2 separate regions of the Homo sapiens genome follow, and region 1 is linked to region 2. A link means that fine-mapping ties the variant in region 2 to the plasma level of a protein whose gene starts in the linked region. Region 2 holds a variant in brackets. A gene starts in the other region. All regions are shown on their reverse strands.

Region 1 (8,339 bases), not on the chromosome of region 2:
CCAATTATTCTTAGGTTTAGTCATTTAACATAATCCCAAACTTCTTGGAGGCTTTATTCACTTAAATTTTTTTCTTTGTCTTTTTTGGATTGGATTACTTCGAAAACCTTGTCTTCAAGCTCTGAAGTTCTTTCTTCTGCTTGTTTTATTATATTGCTGAGACTTTCCAGTACATTTTGCTTTTCTCTAAGTGTGTTCTTTATTTCTTGAAGTTGTGACTGTTTTTTATTTATGCTATCTATTTCACTGAAGATTTCTCCGCTCATATCTTGTGTCATTTTTTTGATATCCTTAAGTTGGATTTCACCTCTCTCTGGTGCCTCCTTGATTAGCTTAATAATCAAACTTCTGAATTCTTTTTCTGGCAGTTCAGGAATTTCTTCTTGGTTTGGATCCATTGCTGATGAGCTAGTGTGATTTTTGGGTGGTGTTAAAGAACCTTGTTTTGTCATAATACCAAAATTGTTTTTCTAGTTCCTTCTCTTTTGGGTAGGCTATGTCAGAGGGGAGATCTGGGGCTCAAGGCTGCTGTTCAGATTCTTTTGTCCCACGGGGTGCTCCCTTGATGTAGTATTCTCCCCCTTTTCCTAGGGATGTGACTTCCTGAGAGCCAAACTGTAGTGATTATTATTACTTTTCTGGATCTAGCCACCAGAAGGGCTACCAGGCTCTGGGCTGGTACTGGGGGTTGTCTGCATAGAGTCCTGTGATGTAAACTGTCTTCAGTTCTCTCAGTCATGGATACCAGCACCTGTTCCAGTAGAGGTGGCAGGGGAGTGAAAGGAACTCTGTGAGGGTCCTTAGTTGTAGTTGTTTGATGCACTAGTTTGGTGCTGGTTGGCCTCCTGCTGAGAGGTGAAGCCAGCTGGACTTCCTGGGTCGAATGGGGACTTGGAGAACTTTTCTGTCTAGCTAAAGGATTGTAAACACACCAATCAGCGCTCTGTGTCTAGCTAAAGGTTTGTAAATGCACCAATCAGCACTTTGTAAAAACAGACCAACCAGCACTCTGTAAAATGTGCCAATCAGCGGGATGTGGGCGGAGCCAAATAAGGGAATAAAAGCTGGCCACCCGAGCCAGCCGCAGCAACCTGGTCTGGTCCCCTTCCAGGCTGTGGAAACTTTGTTCTTTCGCTCTTTGCAATAAATCTTGCTGCTGCTCTCTTTTTGGGTCTGCACTACCTTTATGAGCTGTAACACTCACCGCGAAGGTCTGTGGCTTCACTCCTGAAGTCAGCAAGACCTCGAACCCACCAGGAGGAAGAAACAACTCCGGACGCACCATCTTTTAGAGCTGTAACACTCACTGTGAAGGTCTGCGGCTTCACTCCTGAAGTCAGCAAGACCAGGAACCCACCAGAAGGAAGAAACTCTGGACACATCTGAACATCAGAGGAACAAACTCCGGACACACCATCTTTAAAAACTGTAATGCTCACCGCAAGCGTCCGCAGCTTCATTCTTGAAGTCAGCAAGACCAAGAACCCATTGGAAGGAACCAATTCCAGACACACTGCCATGAGGTAGTGCTTTCATGAGAGCATCAGCTGTGGTATATAGGGGAGGATCAGGTGGTGGGTGGGACACTAGAACTTCCAAGAGAATATGACCTTTGTCTTCAGCTACCAGGGTGGGTAGGGAAGGACCATCAGGTGGGGGCAGGGTTAGGCATGTCTGAGCTCAGAGTCTTCTTGGGTGGGGCTTGTTGTGGCTCTGTGGGGAATGGGGGTGTGATTCCCAGGTTAATGGAGTTACCTTCCCAGGAGGATTATGGCTGCCTCTTCTGTGTCATGCAGGTTGTCAGGGAAGTGGGGGAAAGCTGGCAGTTACAGACCTCACCCAGCTCTCACACAACCCAACAAGCAAATCTCACTTCTACTGTGTTCCCCCAAAAAGCACCGAATTTGTTTCCAGGCAGTAGGGGAGCAGGATTGAGAACTTGCCCCAGGCTACTAGCCTCCCAGCTGAGAATGCAAGCCAGACTTTTGTGCCTCCCTACCTGTTAAGTCTGCACACCAGATTCACGCCCTTTCCTGAGTTCTGGACAGGAAAGTTTGTGTTCGGTTGGAATTGTTACTAAGTTCAGCTGGAGGTTTCCTTCTCCCTGTGGTCTTTTCCCAGTTCCTCCGGCAGCCCCTGTGAGACAAGTCAGAAATGGCTTCTCTGGGGACCCACAGAGACGATGGGGCTTTACCCTTTGCTTCCTCTACCCCTGTATTTCGCTCAGCTCTCTAAATTGTCTGAGCTCCAGGTAAGGTCAAATCCTTCTCCTGTGATCTAGACCTTCAGGTTCCCCAAGGGTGTGTGTTCAGGGGTGGACAATACCCCTTTCACACTTTTCACAGTTTGGGCATTCACAGTATGTGGGCTATTTTCTGGGTCATGCAGGAGCAATATACTTTCTTCAGAGGGTCTGTGGATTATCTTGGCTTTCCTGTTATATCCTTGCAGCAGTTCTTGGAGCAAAAGTTCACAATGCGAGTCTCCACATCCTGCTCTGTCCATCCAAGTGGGAGCTGCAAGTTAGTCCTGCCTCCTATCCACCATTTTTTCCTATTTTGTATTTTAAATTAAAACTCATTAGAATGTAAACTCCATGAGGGCAATAATTTTAATCCAGTTTTTTCACTGCTAAATACCTCAAAACTGTTACATGTGCTGCCATTATCATGGACGTTCTAAACATTTCTCATGAATGAATGTTGATATAGCACAGTGCTGATCTCACCACCTGCCACAAAGTAAAAACTCTCTAAATGTCAAACACTACTATTATAAGTAATACTATTCTATCATTGAGACAACTATGGTTCTGTATCTCTTTAAGGAGTGCAGTCTAGGCAACAACATATTTCAACATCAGGTATCTGTTATCTCATGTTCCTAAGTTCATCTTTTTACCTGATCAATATTAGTAAAGATCTATGGCCTCAAGTGAACTTTACTCTATGAATTTACAATTGGGAACTTAGGTTGAAAATTTACCTAGTATTATTTATTCTGCTGCTATAATTTATTATTTATTCTGCTGCTATTGTTGCCCTAATCAGTTATCATGCTCTTACTGGACTCTGACATGGTAAGTAATGTCAATTAATATAGTTGTGTTATTTTAACATTATTTCAAAATATTTTAAGTGAAATATAAGACTCGTTACAAAAGGACTTAGACAGAGGTTATAAATTATTAACTTTTTCCTCAAGAGAAGTATTGTGTACTTAATGACAAGTTCCTAGTGCTTAGAATTGTTAAAATCTTTGTGAAGCACACCACTGAAGATGAGGTTGAAAAACCTGACTTTTATCATCATATTGATAATCTCAGGAGAACTCTATGCAGAAGGTAAAATTAATTCTTAATATTCTTTATTCTCTAAAACATACAAATGGAGATTCTAATATTTATACAACTCAAGTTTTAATATACTCTTCTATTTTCATTATCAATTTTATAACATATTTTATAAATATAACTTTTTATAATATTTAGACCTTTTCCTTTGAGCAAAATTAGTAAAGTGTTCTTACAGTAGCATAAGTCAGAAAAGCAAAACAAAACAAAAACCCTTGTATCTCTAGGGGGCATAGGAGACCAGGATCTAAATACTTCGAAAAGGTTTTCAGGTTAACAATATGTCCATTTCGAAGTCACATGTTAACTTTAATTCTAAATTTATGCTAGAATCCATTCCTAATACTGACAAAACTTGTACAATTTTAATTCTGTTCATAAGGTGAGAGTTTAATGTGGGAAATTTGAAAAGGAAATAGCCATAAATATTTTTTACTTTTGAGACTTTGATTTTTATCACAATGAATTATTCATTTGTTGGAGACATTAAGTAGTGATTAGTAGGTGAACCATATAATTGCTTGTACAAACAGGGACACTTAGAGAGTAAAAGAGGGGCTCTATTAATAACTGTTTGGACAACACATGTAAATCAGGACTTTCCAAACAAACCAATACCTATGGACTCCCTATTAGAAAGCTTTATAGTCAGATTGCCCAATGTGTAAGATTAGTGTGCGAGTGGAAGCTAGGCAGTGTACATGGGTATGTTGTTCAGGAACATTATCAATATTATCAGGCCATAGGATGAAGAATCCAGGGAGGACACTTAGCATTAGCAAGAGTGAACATACAAAGAAGGAAGCTACAGCAATACAGCTTTTCTAAAATAAACATTTTTGGGAATTTGTTGAAATTAAATACATAAGTTTTAACTGTGTTTTAGTTGAATAGTTAACTATAAATTTTCTACCAAAACATCTATAATTAAAATTATAAAAGTGAAAGACACAGAATTAATCTTATTTTATACTTTTAATTCTATAATAGGATGATTTTTGCATGAATTTCTTTTGATTTTATTTTTCTGTCTAAATAGGGAAATACCAGCAGATATAATTGTCTGTTATCTATACCATAAAGACATTGCAATATTCTAGTTAATTTTCTAATTATTATAAGGTTATAATGCTATTTTACACAACAAAAAAAAAAGTAAGCTGCTTGAAGACCAAGACAATGATTTTATTTTTGCATGCTTCTCTCAACTCCCATTGTGCACTTCAGGGACAAGAATTGAATTAATTGTGTTTCTCATTTCATGGTATGCAAGTATTATTGGCCTATGAAAGGTCTCACTCTTGCTTTACTTACACATTTTATCCCCTTATTCCTAATCTTGAAGTCCATTTCCCCTGGGACCTACTACAATGTTTTAACATGTTACTCTAGCTCTCTCAACCACAAATAGCTCTGGAATGAATATTGTAATATAACCAACTTATCTTTCTGTAAGAATGTCATCAGTCTGTATTCACTCACAGATAGCATTATTGAGTCTATTCTTGTACTTGATTTCTGTAATGAGAGATTACTTTTGCAGAATGGCAGTTTTGAAGTATATCATCTCTGAGAGAGGATGTAAATTGTTGCTCCTCATCATTCTCACCAACACCTCATATTGTCCATTTTTGTACTGGTTGCTATATGGTTATTCATAAAGTGATATCCCATTTTTATTTATTTACCATTCTCTGATCAGTAGTAAGTGTGTCCATCGCTTCATGTACTTTTTTTAATATGTTCAGACATCTGTGATTTCCTGGTTTATATGTGATTAGTATATTCCTCACATTTCTCATTAATTTTTTGTCAGGAATTCATATTCTCCAAGGCATTCCAGCTACCTTAACAAATAATGTGCCTATCCTGGTGGTGGAGGGAGATGTCCCAGGACAGAGAGTCTTTAAAGCCACAACCTAGGATTGTTGTGCAGAGAATACTTTGCTGCCCCTCCCTGACAAGCAACTGTGCCCCTCAGGGAAATTTCTTGTGTATTCACCATTGCACTGCTATTTTGGAAGACTCTTTTTATTGTAAATTCCTTTGGTGCTTGGGTGTGAAAAAATGGTGAGAATAATTCTCAAGGAATGGGGACTATCCAGCCCATGTTTTTCTGTCTGCTCCATCAGATAGTGGAAGTTTTGTTGCTCATCATTCCACATCCATTTCCTTCAAACCTAGGCTAGCACTACTAGTATTTTATGTCTCATAGTAGCATTAAGGTATACAGTGATCAACCAAGGCATTGAAGCCGTAGTAATCACACTGGATCTAGGCCTTCTTCCATCCATGACTGCCCATGTTTCTTCCCACCACAGCTCCTAGGATTGTTCGAGCATTTCTTTCTTTTAAGTGTTTTTATGACTTTAAGATCTTCAACATAAAGATATATTTTTAAAATATATGTTTTATTTGGAGTATAACATATCCAGAAAAATGCAAAAATCACAGGATACACTTATATAGTTTTTACAAAATTTTACACCATCCAGATCAAGATATAGAACAGTGATAGTACCCCAGAAATATGATCCTTCTAAGGCACTAAACCCCAAAGGTAACCATTCTGACTTCTATTATCATGGATTAGTTTGTTTTCTTTTAAAAAGTTATGCAAATGTATACATTAATTCATATGTGATTGGCTTCTTTCACTCAATATTATGTTTATGAGATTCACCATTTGTTCATTTCTGTTGTTGGATAATATTCCATTGTATGCATAGTCTAAAATGTGTTTATCTTTTCTATTATTTATGGGCATTTAGATTGTTCCCAGTTTGGGACTATATGAATACTGCCACTATAAGCATTTTTTTCCATGTCTTTTGGTATACAAATATGTGCTTTTTTTATTGGGTAATATGGTTTGTACATGTTTTACCCCAATATATATTGCAAAGGTGTTCTCTCATAGAGTTTGGACTGATTTATACTTTCAGTTGTAGAAATATGCGAGTTCCAGTTTCTTCACTTCTTCACAATCATTGAGATAGCTTGTCTTTTTCATTTCAGCAGTTCTATTGGATATGCAGTAGTATCTCATGGTGGTTTAAATTTTCATTTCCCTGATGACTAGTAATGCTAAGTACCAGGTCTCTAACCATTTAAATATCCTATTTTGCCAAGTTCTTGCCAAGTATTGCTTTGTTTTACTTGGTTGTCTGTTTTTTCTTTTAATGCTATTTATTTCAAAATTTTTTATGAGTTAGCATATGTTAAGGAGAAACTTTACCTATTCCTGAACTGTACTGTCCAATACAGTGGCCATCAGCCACATATAGCTATTGGAGACAGTACTTAAAATGTCACTAGTTCAAGATCAGATATTCTGTAAGTATAAATATGTAGTGGATTTTAAAGAGTTAGAAAAAAAAAGAATGTAAAATATTTTCAATATATTGGGTTAAATAAAAACCTATTATTAAAACTAACTTCAATTGTTCCTTAGTATTTTTATGAATGTGACTATTAGAAATTTTTAAATTACATAAGTGACTTACAATACATATCTATTAGGAAGTGCAGGCAGGGTGGAGTGGTTCAAGTCTTGTAATCCTAGTGCTTTGGGAGGCCAAAGCAGAAGGATCCTTTGAGTCCAGGAGTTTGAGACCAGCGTGAGCAACAGAGTGAGACCCCTCATCTCTACAAAAAATAAAACAAAAATTAGCCAGATGTGGTGGCATGTGCCTGCAGTCCTAGCTACAGGAGAGGAGGCTTGCTTAAGCCCAGGAGCTCCTGGTGGCAGTGAGCTATATTTCAGCACTGCACTGAAGCTTGGATAACTGAGGAAGACTCTGTGTCTAGGAAGAAAAAAAAAAGTACTGTTCTACGAAGTTATGCAAAGCTTCCCTGAAAAAGTGGTCTGCTAAATTTTATCATGACTGTTGGATGTTTAAAGTCATTTGCAGATCAATTATGATAAAAGGACTGCTTGAGTTGTCACAAAAGTACCTTAAAAATTTAAGTAAGAAAAATAAGTACTAGTTGAAGTGTCTCTAAAAACTTTTAGTTTGTATTGTCACCTGATTACAAATTTATGTTTTTAGATTTGTTTTTCCATTTTCAGCTTGACATTTACTCATTTCAGAGAAACCCTGTGGTTTTCCTCATGTGGAAAATGGAAGAATTGCCCAATATTACTATACTTTTAAAAGCTTTTACTTTCCAATGAGCATAGACAAAAAATTGTCATTTTTCTGCTTGGCTGGTTATACCACTGAAAGTGGAAGACAAGAAGAGCAAACCACGTGTACAACAGAAGGCTGGTCTCCAGAGCCAAGGTGCTTCAGTAAGTCAGCTGGATATGTCACTCAATGTTTCAATACTCAAAGAAATTTGTATATAAAAATAGGGGTCCAATAAAAATGGAAAGCGGTTAAACCTTTTAGTAGATAAGAACAAAATCACTAGCAATCTGTCTTTCTACAAAATGAAGGCATAATTTGAAATCCAGTAAATAATGCTTTTACATTAAAATGTTATTTTCTGTATCTGTTTTTAATAATACTCTGTTGAAGGGAATAGGGTAATAACTGAAATTATCATATTGCAAGGCAAAGAGAGGTAATTTACTTTAAGTAACAAGAAACTTATTTTGATAATTAAGCATAAGATGCCAGAAAAATGCTTGAAACTCTGGCCTCTGGAAGGGCAAGATTGCTACTCTAATGCTTTATCATTTGTAAGACTCATCTCTCTTCATGTGCCAACTTCTCTCATGATACCCATTGAAAAATGTGTTTTTCAATTTTGAATTGAAAGTTTGAGTTCAAAGTTGTGAGAAGGTAATCTAATTGACTCATTTCATTATTTTATATCAGGCTACACTATCATCAAACTATCAATGATCTTCCACTAGGGCAGGTGACCCAGAGTAAGGGGCTTTGGTTGAGCCAGTTTCGTTTAAAAGAGGATGTTGAATATGGCTATTGTGGTTGATATATCTAGTAAACCTATCTAGAAGTAGATGTGGTAGGGGTAG
Region 2 (8,339 bases):
TATAATGCCATGGTGAATTATGCATAAAGCTTTTATCTTATTAAAAAATATCTCCCTGGCTGGGCGCAGTGGCTCACGCCTGTAATCCCAACACTTTGGGAGGCCGAGGCAGGGGGATCACGAGGTCAGGAGATAGAGACCATCCTGGCTAACACAGTGAAACCTCATCTCTACTAAAAATACAAAAAATTAGCCAGGCGTGGTGGCGGGCGCCTGTAGTCCCAGCTACTCAAGAGGCTGAGGCAGGAGAATGGTGTGAACCTGGGAGGCGGAGCTTGCAGCAAGCCGAGATTGCACCACTGCATTCCAGCCTGGGTGACATGCAAGACTCCGTCTCAAAAAAAAAAAAAAAAAAAAAAATATATATATATATATATATATATATATCTCCCTATAATAGATTCCCAGAAGCAAAATTATTTGGGTCAAGGAATATAAATATTTTAAAGGCTGTGGATAAATCTTGCAACTTTATCATCTGGAAAAGTCAAGCCTATTCTTATTCCTACCAGCTGTATATGGAAGTGTTTATCCTGTAGCAATTGTGGAAGTTTGGATATTCTCAGATTTCAAAAAGGGAGTTTTGTTTATTCCACAGGAAGTGAAAAATCATGAATCAGTTTCAATATGCATTTCTGTACTTCTGGGAATTTTTACTTTTCAAATACATAGTAGTCACTTTCATTTCTCTTGATTCACTGTGGCAGAGGCAATACTAAACGTTTATTTAGTTATATTCTGGGGCATACAACTAAACTATGTTTCTTGGCTCCATGCTCCTGGGTGTGATAACACAGCTTTCTCACCACCTGAATGTGAGAAGAAGTGACCTGCTTCTAGGTGAAAATACTCTGCATCCCTGGGACTTGCGTGCCAAGCAGGAGAGCCCTCCTACCCACATCAGGTGTAAGTGAGTATGAAATAAACCTTATTGTATTAGCCATCAAGTGTGGTTTATTTGATACTGTAGCAGAGCCTGGCCTCTTTTGACCAAAATAGTCACCATTTAAGTTATCATTCCTGCTGTGTAATAAATTAACCTAAAACTTAGTGGTTTAAAAAACAAGAATAATTTACTATCACTAGCAATTTCTATGGGCCAAGAATTCAAGAGAGACTCAACAGGATGGTTCTCTGGGTCTCTCATGAGGCTGCAGTCAGGTGTTGGCCAGAGCTGTGGTCTCATCTGAAGGCTTGGCTGGGACAGCAGATCCACTTTCAAGGTGACTAACTCACACATGGGCAAGTTGGTATTGGCTGCTGACTGGGGGCCGAGTTCCTCCCCAAGGGATTGGTTCTCCTCAGGGCTGCTTTGTCCTTATGACATGGTGGCTGGCTTCCCCTAAAATGAGCAGTCCAGAAGGGAAAGTCTGAAGCCACAGTGTGCTTTATGACCCAGCCTTAGACGTCACACACCATCTACCTCTGCTGGAATTTACTGGCCACATGCAGTCTCCCTGATTTACTGGGAAGGGAGACTATGCTGGTTATGAATACGGAAGCAAGGATCATTGGGGGCCATCCTGAGGCTGGCAATTAATTCTTAAATCACTCAAGTATGTGTGCAGAGATTTATATACCAGGAGAGGATGGCCATTATAGTGTTGTTTTCAGAAGAAAAAAAGAAGGATGCCAGGCACAGTGGCTCACACCTGTAATCCCGGCACTTTGGGAGGCCGAGGCAGGTGGATCACCTGAAGTCAGGAGTTCGAGGCCAGCATGGTGAAACCCGTCTCTACTAAAAATACACAAATTAGCTGGGCGTGGTGGTGGGCACCTGTAATCCCAGCTACTCGGGAGGCTGAGGCAGGAGAATCGCTTGAACCCAGGAGGTGGAGGTTGCAGTGAGCCGCGATGGTGCCATTGCACTCCAGCCTGGGTGACAAGAGGGAAAATCCATCTTAGTAAATAACTAAATAAATAAATAAATAAAGGAAAAGATAAATGTCCATCAGGTTGAATAAATCATGATATGACCACAAAATAGAATTGCAAGCAGTCACATGTTGCAGAAGAATTTTTATGACATAAAAAGATGTAGTCATACATATAACTGAGTGGCAAAACAATATGTAGAGTGATTCTGATTGGTAAAGAGTGTCTTTATTTAAAAAAGCATAGGAAAAGTGTGAAAGGGTATATACCTGGGATATTTTGGTCATCAATCAGCAAGTGGCAAGTGTCCACACCCCTCACCTCCCACTGTGGGTGAGGGACCCTTTCCCACAACGTTGGACTTGCTTTGGTCAATGGAAAGTGGAGAGCAGTATTCATGGTCAGTTCTGAGACTATGCCATCAGTTGTCTTGCATGCTCCACTTGCCTCTCTGGCAGCTTCTGACTTTCCATATGGGAGGAACATTTCCTGAGAACCAGGTGGGCCCAGGAGAATGAGAGACACACAGAGCAAGGCCACAGTTGGGACCAAGTCCACCAAGATCAGCCAAATGCCAACCAACCCACAGGTGCAAGAGCAAGACATAAATACTCACCCTTGGCTGCCTCTGAGGTTCACGGTTGCTGTTACTGAGGATACAATATCAAAACATGGACAGTTTTTATTTCTGGGCAACAGAATTATTTTTTTTCTTACCTTTGTTTTCTAAACTTTTTACAATGAACTTACTTTTTAAAATAAGAAAAATGTTATTTGGCTGGGCATGGTGGCTCATGTCTGTAATCCCAGCACTTTGGGAGGCCGAGGCAGGTGGATCACTTGAGGTCAGATGTTCAAGACCAGCCTGGCCAACATGATGAAACCCCATCTCTATTAAAAATACAAAAAGTTAGCTGGGCTTGGAGGCGGGTGCCTGTAATCCCAGCTATTCAGGAGGCTGAGGCAGGAGAATCACTTGAACCCGGGAGGCGGAGGTTGCAGTGAGCTGAGATTGTGCCACTGCACTCCAGCCTGGGCAATAAGAGTGAAACTATCTCTCAAAAAAAAATTATTTAAGCCTACATGTATGTAAAGCAAGCTTTTGGGAAGTTTAAAAAGAAAACCTTGCCCACAAACTCACCTTATGTCTCTGTTCTGCTCCTCACCCAGATGTATGGTAATCTAATGATAATTCCAGTATGCATACTTGGATAGTCCATCTTTTCTCTAAAGATACATTGTAAACACTCTTCCATGTTGGTACACATCCTCCATGACTAACATTTACAGTGTGTAGTGTGTATTAGTCAGTTTTCATGCTGCTATAAAGACATACTGGAGACTGGGCAATTTACAAAAGAAAGAGATTTAACCGACTCACAGTTCCATGTGGCTGGGGAGGCCTCACAATCATGATGGAAGGCGAAAGGCACGTCTCACATGGTGGCAGACATGAGAAGAATGACAGCGAAGAGACAGGGGTTTCCCCATATTAAACCATCAGATCTCATGATCCTTATTCACTACCACGAGAACAGTATGGGGGAAACCGCCCCCATGATTCATTTATCTCCCACTGGGTCCCTCCCACAACACAAGGGAATTATGGGAGCTACAATTCAAGATGAGATTTGGGTGGGGACACAGCCAAACCATATCACAGTGACTGACGGAACATTCCACCAAGTGAATTTCAGAACATAGCATGCTTGTGTTTTTCCCACTGTTGGAAATTTCAGTTGTTTCTGACTTGTCATGCTTAACAATCAGGGGGCAATGGATATCTTCATGCATGTGCTTCTCCACCTTTCTTTGGGTTTCCCAAACATAAAGTCACACACTTGAGACTACATGAGAGGAAATGAATATTTGAATCACTCTTGGCATATATTTTAAAATTTGCCACCCAGAAGAATCAGCCACTGCCCCTCTCCACCAGCTGTATTTACAGGTGCTGGCCTGAGGCAGACAATGCAGATAACCCAGCTGTGTTCCGCAGGAAATGAGCTCTGATTTTATTCTGAGGGACACTGTACCTAGCCTACCTTGTAAATAGTGGTAGCAATGAAATGTAAGAAGAATTAATTGAGTGGGTCATCTGGAAAGCTCCATAAGAGGGGACAACTGGAAATGAGCCCTGCTGTGCTCCCAACATCTGCTTCCTGCTGTGATGGTTGGCTAGCCAGCAGCCCTCATGGACCATGAGGCTACTTTGAGGATGGAATTTATACACTTTGCAAAGCAGAAAAGAAAGATCCCCAGTAACATTATGGGGGCCAAGCATGGTGGCTCACGCCTGTAATCCCAGCACTTTGGGTGGCCAAGGAGGGCAAATCACTTGAGGTCAGGAGTTCGAGACCAGCCTCACCCACAGGGTGAAACCCCGTCTACTAAAAATACAAAAATTAGCCAGGCATGGTAGTGGGCACCTGTAATCCCAGCTACTCAGGAGGCTGAAGCAAGAGAATTGCTTGAACCCAGGAGGCAGAGGTTGCAGTGAGCCGAGATTGCCCCACTGCACTCCAGCCTGGGAGACAGAGCAAGACTCTGTCTCAAAACACAAAAACAGAAACAAAAGAAACAGGCCACACGGCTGGGCATGGTGGCTCACGCCTGTAATCCCAGCACTTTGGGAGGTCGAGGCGGGTGGATCATGAGGTCAGGGGATCGAGACCATTCTGGCTAATACGGTGAAACCCCGTTCTCTACTAAAAAATACAAAAAATTAGCTGGGTGTGGTGGCGGGCACCTGTAGTCCCAGCTACTCAGGAGGCTGAGGCAGGAGAATGGTGTGAACCCGGAAGGCGGAGCTTACAGTGAGCCAAGATCACACCACTGCACTCCAGACTGGGCGACAGAGTGAGACTCCGTCTCAAAAAAAAAAAAAAAAAAAGAAACAGGCCAGGCACGGTGGCTCAGGCCTGTAATCCCAGCACTATGGGAGGCCAAGGTGGCTGGATCACTTGAGGTCAGGAGGTCGAGACCAACCTGGCCAACATGATGGAAACCTGTCTTTACTAAAAATACAAAAAAAAAAAAAATAGCTGGGTGGGGCAGCAGGCACCTGTAATCCCAACTACCTGGGAGGCTGAGAAAGGAGAATCACTTGAACCCGGGGGCAGAGGTTGCAGTGAGCTGAGATTGCACCATTGCACTCCAGCCTGAGTGAAACTCCATCTCAAAAAAAAAAAAA[T/AT]TACGGGGGTACCATGCTGGCCTTAGATTGCCTATATCCAGGCTTTTTTCATGTGAGAGAAAAACACATCCTAATTAGTGAAGCCTTTGAATCTTCAATCTCTGTACTGGCAACGAGACTGCTTTTTACCTCTCCAAAACCTTACTATCATTGGTTTTTAGTATATTACAATGATAGAAATTATTTATAGGTATCAAAAGGGGCTTAATTCTTTTGCAATCTGGATATTTTGAGAGTCATTATAGGCAGAAGAAATAACACAAGCAAAGTTGTACAAGCTGGGAAAGACAGGCATTTTCAGGGACACATCAGTTACTTCCTGGAGTGTCTGCCTGTCTGCTCTCGCCTTACTAAGAGAAAGAAGGTGAAGTCATATTGTGGAGACCCTTGCTGCCAGGTGAGACATGAATTCCATTCCCATCATGGAGAACCATGGAGGCAGGGTGTCACAGTGGAGACAATCTATGTTTCCATCTCCCTCCCTCTCTCTCTCTCATTTCTTCCATCCCTCCTTCTGTCTGTCTCCATCTGTCTCCCTTCTTCCTTCTCCCTGCAAGTCTTCCCCTTTCCCCTCCCTGCCTCTCTCCCTCCAGTTGCAGCAGGAGCGTTCTCAGGGAATGCCCTGTCTGGGACAGAACAACTCACAGGGGAACATGGACGGGTCGCACAGCTTGGAGAAGGAGTTGGAAAGCCGACACCCTCCACAGCAGGCGAGCCCAGCCCTGCTGGCACTCTGTGAAAGGCTATTTCTGTGTTTCCTGTGTTCAGACCAAGACATGCCATCCCTGCCTGATAAATGCCCCTTTGTGCTGGAAGGGTTCTCATAAACCCATGAGATGCTCTCAGCCAGACCCAACTGCACGTGGCCCTGAGCTCTGCCCGGCAACAGTACTGCTGGGGCCGGGACCCCTGCCAGCCTAGACGCCATCAGAGCCAGAGACAGGAAATGTGGCATTCTGGGGAGCCGCCCCGGAGGCTATGTGGCTTCTACACAGCACAGGCAACATCCACAGGTGGGACAGGCAGCCATGCCACAGTGAGGCCCCAGGTCACATGCAGAGGCCTGGCTCATGGCCAGACCTGCCTTAAATGTGGAGCTGGGAACTGAGGGGTCTGGCGACTCTGCTCCTTGGGATCCACTTCCTGAGCAGCAGTGGCCACAGGACGAGTCCCTGTGGTTGTTTGGCCCCACCCACCCCATGTCCGGCCATGAGGACACACCTCACATCCTACCTGATCTGTGTGTGTGTGTGTGTCTGTGTGTGTGTGTGTGTGTGTGTAGACAGAGTCTCGCTCTGTCGCCCAGGCTGGAGTGCAGTGGTGCGATCTCAGCTCACTGCAACCTCTGCCTCCTGGGTTCAAGCTATTCTCCTGCCTCAGCCTCCTGAATACCTGGGATTATAGGCGCCTGCCACCACGCCCAGCTAATTTTTGTATTTTTAGTAGAGACGGGGTTTCACCATGTTGGTCAGCTGGTCTTGAACTCCTGACCTTAGGTGATCCACTCTCCTTGACCTCCCAAAGTGCTGGGATTATAGGCGTGAGCCACCGCGCCCAGCCCCTACCTGCTCTTGACAGGAACCAGGGGGTCCCAGGGGCGGTCCCCTGCACAGTGCCACTTCCCTGGCAGCACCCCCACCCTCAGAACTCCACGTCCACCTTCCTTGGACTGGCATATTTCAACTTCCAAATTTTTCCTATAGGCTTCAGTTAAAAGGAAGGAATAGAACCAGAGGTTCGCCACCAAAGCAAGACTCCAGGGAAATTTGGAAGGAGAAGCAGCTGTGGAAACCAGCGTTTTCAGACCGTGAGGCACAGGTGGCCTTCAGATGAGGCCGACAGTGGCCGGGGCAAAGAGCAGAGGACAGAGAGCGAAGGGCATGCCCCCCTGCTTGCCGTCTGCAGTCGCATTCTCTGCAAATAAGGTCGTCTGGGACCCCTGCTTTTCAAGGTTATTGTCCCAGATGATGTATCTTTTTTTTTTTTTCTTTGAGACAGGGTCTCACTCTGTCACCCAGGCTGGAGTGCAGTGGCAAAATTTCCACCCGCTGCAACCTCCAACCCCTGGTTCAGGCAATTCTCGTGCCTCAGCCTCCCGAGTAGCTGGGATTACAGGCATGCACCACCACGCTAGCTAATTTTTGTATTTTCAGTAGACATGGGGTGTTGTCATGTTGGCCAGGCTGGTCTCGAACTCCTGACCTCAAGTGATCCGCCTGCCTTGGCCTCCCAAAGTGCTGGGATTACAGGTGTGAGCCACCACACCTGGCCCCTGATGACATATCCTTGACCAAAATGAAGGCGACACTCGCTTACCTGCTGGCCTGAATGTGCTCACCAACCCTCTACTTGACCCAGTGAGGACATCCCCAGCCTGAACACAATGATCCCAACCAGCATGAAAACATGTGGGCTGACTCTCTCGGGCTTGGGACGGAGTCCTCTTTAGGCCTCGTCCCTTCACGGATTTATGCAAGGAAAATAACTAAAAATGGTATGTTTATAGTATGTTTGTTTCCAACATGCCACACTGATGACTCCTGACTTTTCCACAGTGGAGGGACACCTGCCTCATGCTGAGGGACAGTGGGAGGGCTTGTGGGAGGCACTGGGCCCCAGACTTACAGGGGGCAGCTTCTCAGAAGCAGGCTCTCCCCTACCTGTGCCCCTGCGTCAATCCTCAGCTTGGCCCACATCCCTGCCTCAGAACTTGCAGGGACAGCTGTGCCCGGTGGCTTGGAGTAGGGTTCCTGGGCCAGCAGCATCAGCCCCTCTGGGCTGGTCCCAGTGAGCTGTGTTCTCACAGAGTTCTGATGCATGTCCAAGTTTGAAAACCGCAGGCCCAACCAGAAACAGGACCAGACAACTCCCTCTAGGCCGGGAGTGATGGTGTTCTACTGGTGTGAGCTCATGCTCAGAAGTCGCAGGCTGACCCCTGTCCCCTCCCTGCCACAGGACAGGGAGGGAGTGGGGACAGGAGGCTTCCACAGCCTGAGCCTGAAGCCCCCACCCCACTGCAGGCTCTTGTGACATTCACAGAGGTCTCCCCCAAGGAAGCTACGGGTAGCCTTGGGCCTGAGGTGGGCTGAGATTCCCTAGGCAGGACAGGAAAGGGCTTTGGCTTGGCTGCGAGGTAGCTCCTGGCACCCAGCCACAGTAGGCAGAGGGTGCAGTGTGGACTCAGGCAATCTGGGTTTGAATCTCAGCTCTCAGAGCCCCAGTTTCCCCGTCTGTAGAAAGGACACAACAACACCATAATGAGATCATGCAC

Which allele goes with the higher level. Positions count from the first base shown, and alleles are read on the strand shown. Strength reflects both the effect of a copy and how common the allele is.
In carriers of allele AT in region 2, the plasma level of the protein whose gene starts at base 3,243 in region 1 tends to be lower than with T alone (weak association).

Evidence for each region. PIP is the chance, under the fine-mapping model, that this variant and not a neighbour inherited with it causes the effect. Protein levels are from antibody-based Olink assays in UK Biobank. Linkage for the fine-mapping came from a reference panel and not from the study's own genotypes, which makes the PIPs less certain.
Region 1: F13B starts here. The variant in region 2 is fine-mapped to the plasma level of the F13B protein (UK Biobank, PIP 0.98).

The regions. Positions count from the first base shown.
Region 1 is chr1:197,062,164-197,070,502 of GRCh38, reverse strand. F13B (coagulation factor XIII B chain) reads left to right here and starts at 3,243. Exons shown (of 12, transcript NM_001994.3): 1 at 3,243-3,343; 2 at 7,446-7,646. The coding sequence starts at 3,280. RefSeq lists an enhancer at 936-2,135.
Region 2 is chr9:93,141,869-93,150,207 of GRCh38, reverse strand. It overlaps LOC124902212 (a long non-coding RNA gene), which reads right to left. Exons shown (of 3, transcript XR_007061665.1): 2 at 2,145-2,525; 3 at 1,839-1,875. It overlaps LOC124902213 (a long non-coding RNA gene), which reads right to left and starts at 1,807. Exons shown (of 2, transcript XR_007061667.1): 1 at 1,778-1,807; 2 at 932-1,342. RefSeq lists a silencer at 3,467-3,761 and enhancers at 5,784-5,923, 5,511-6,383, 6,384-7,256. The variant T/AT (reference allele first, on the strand shown) is at 5,069.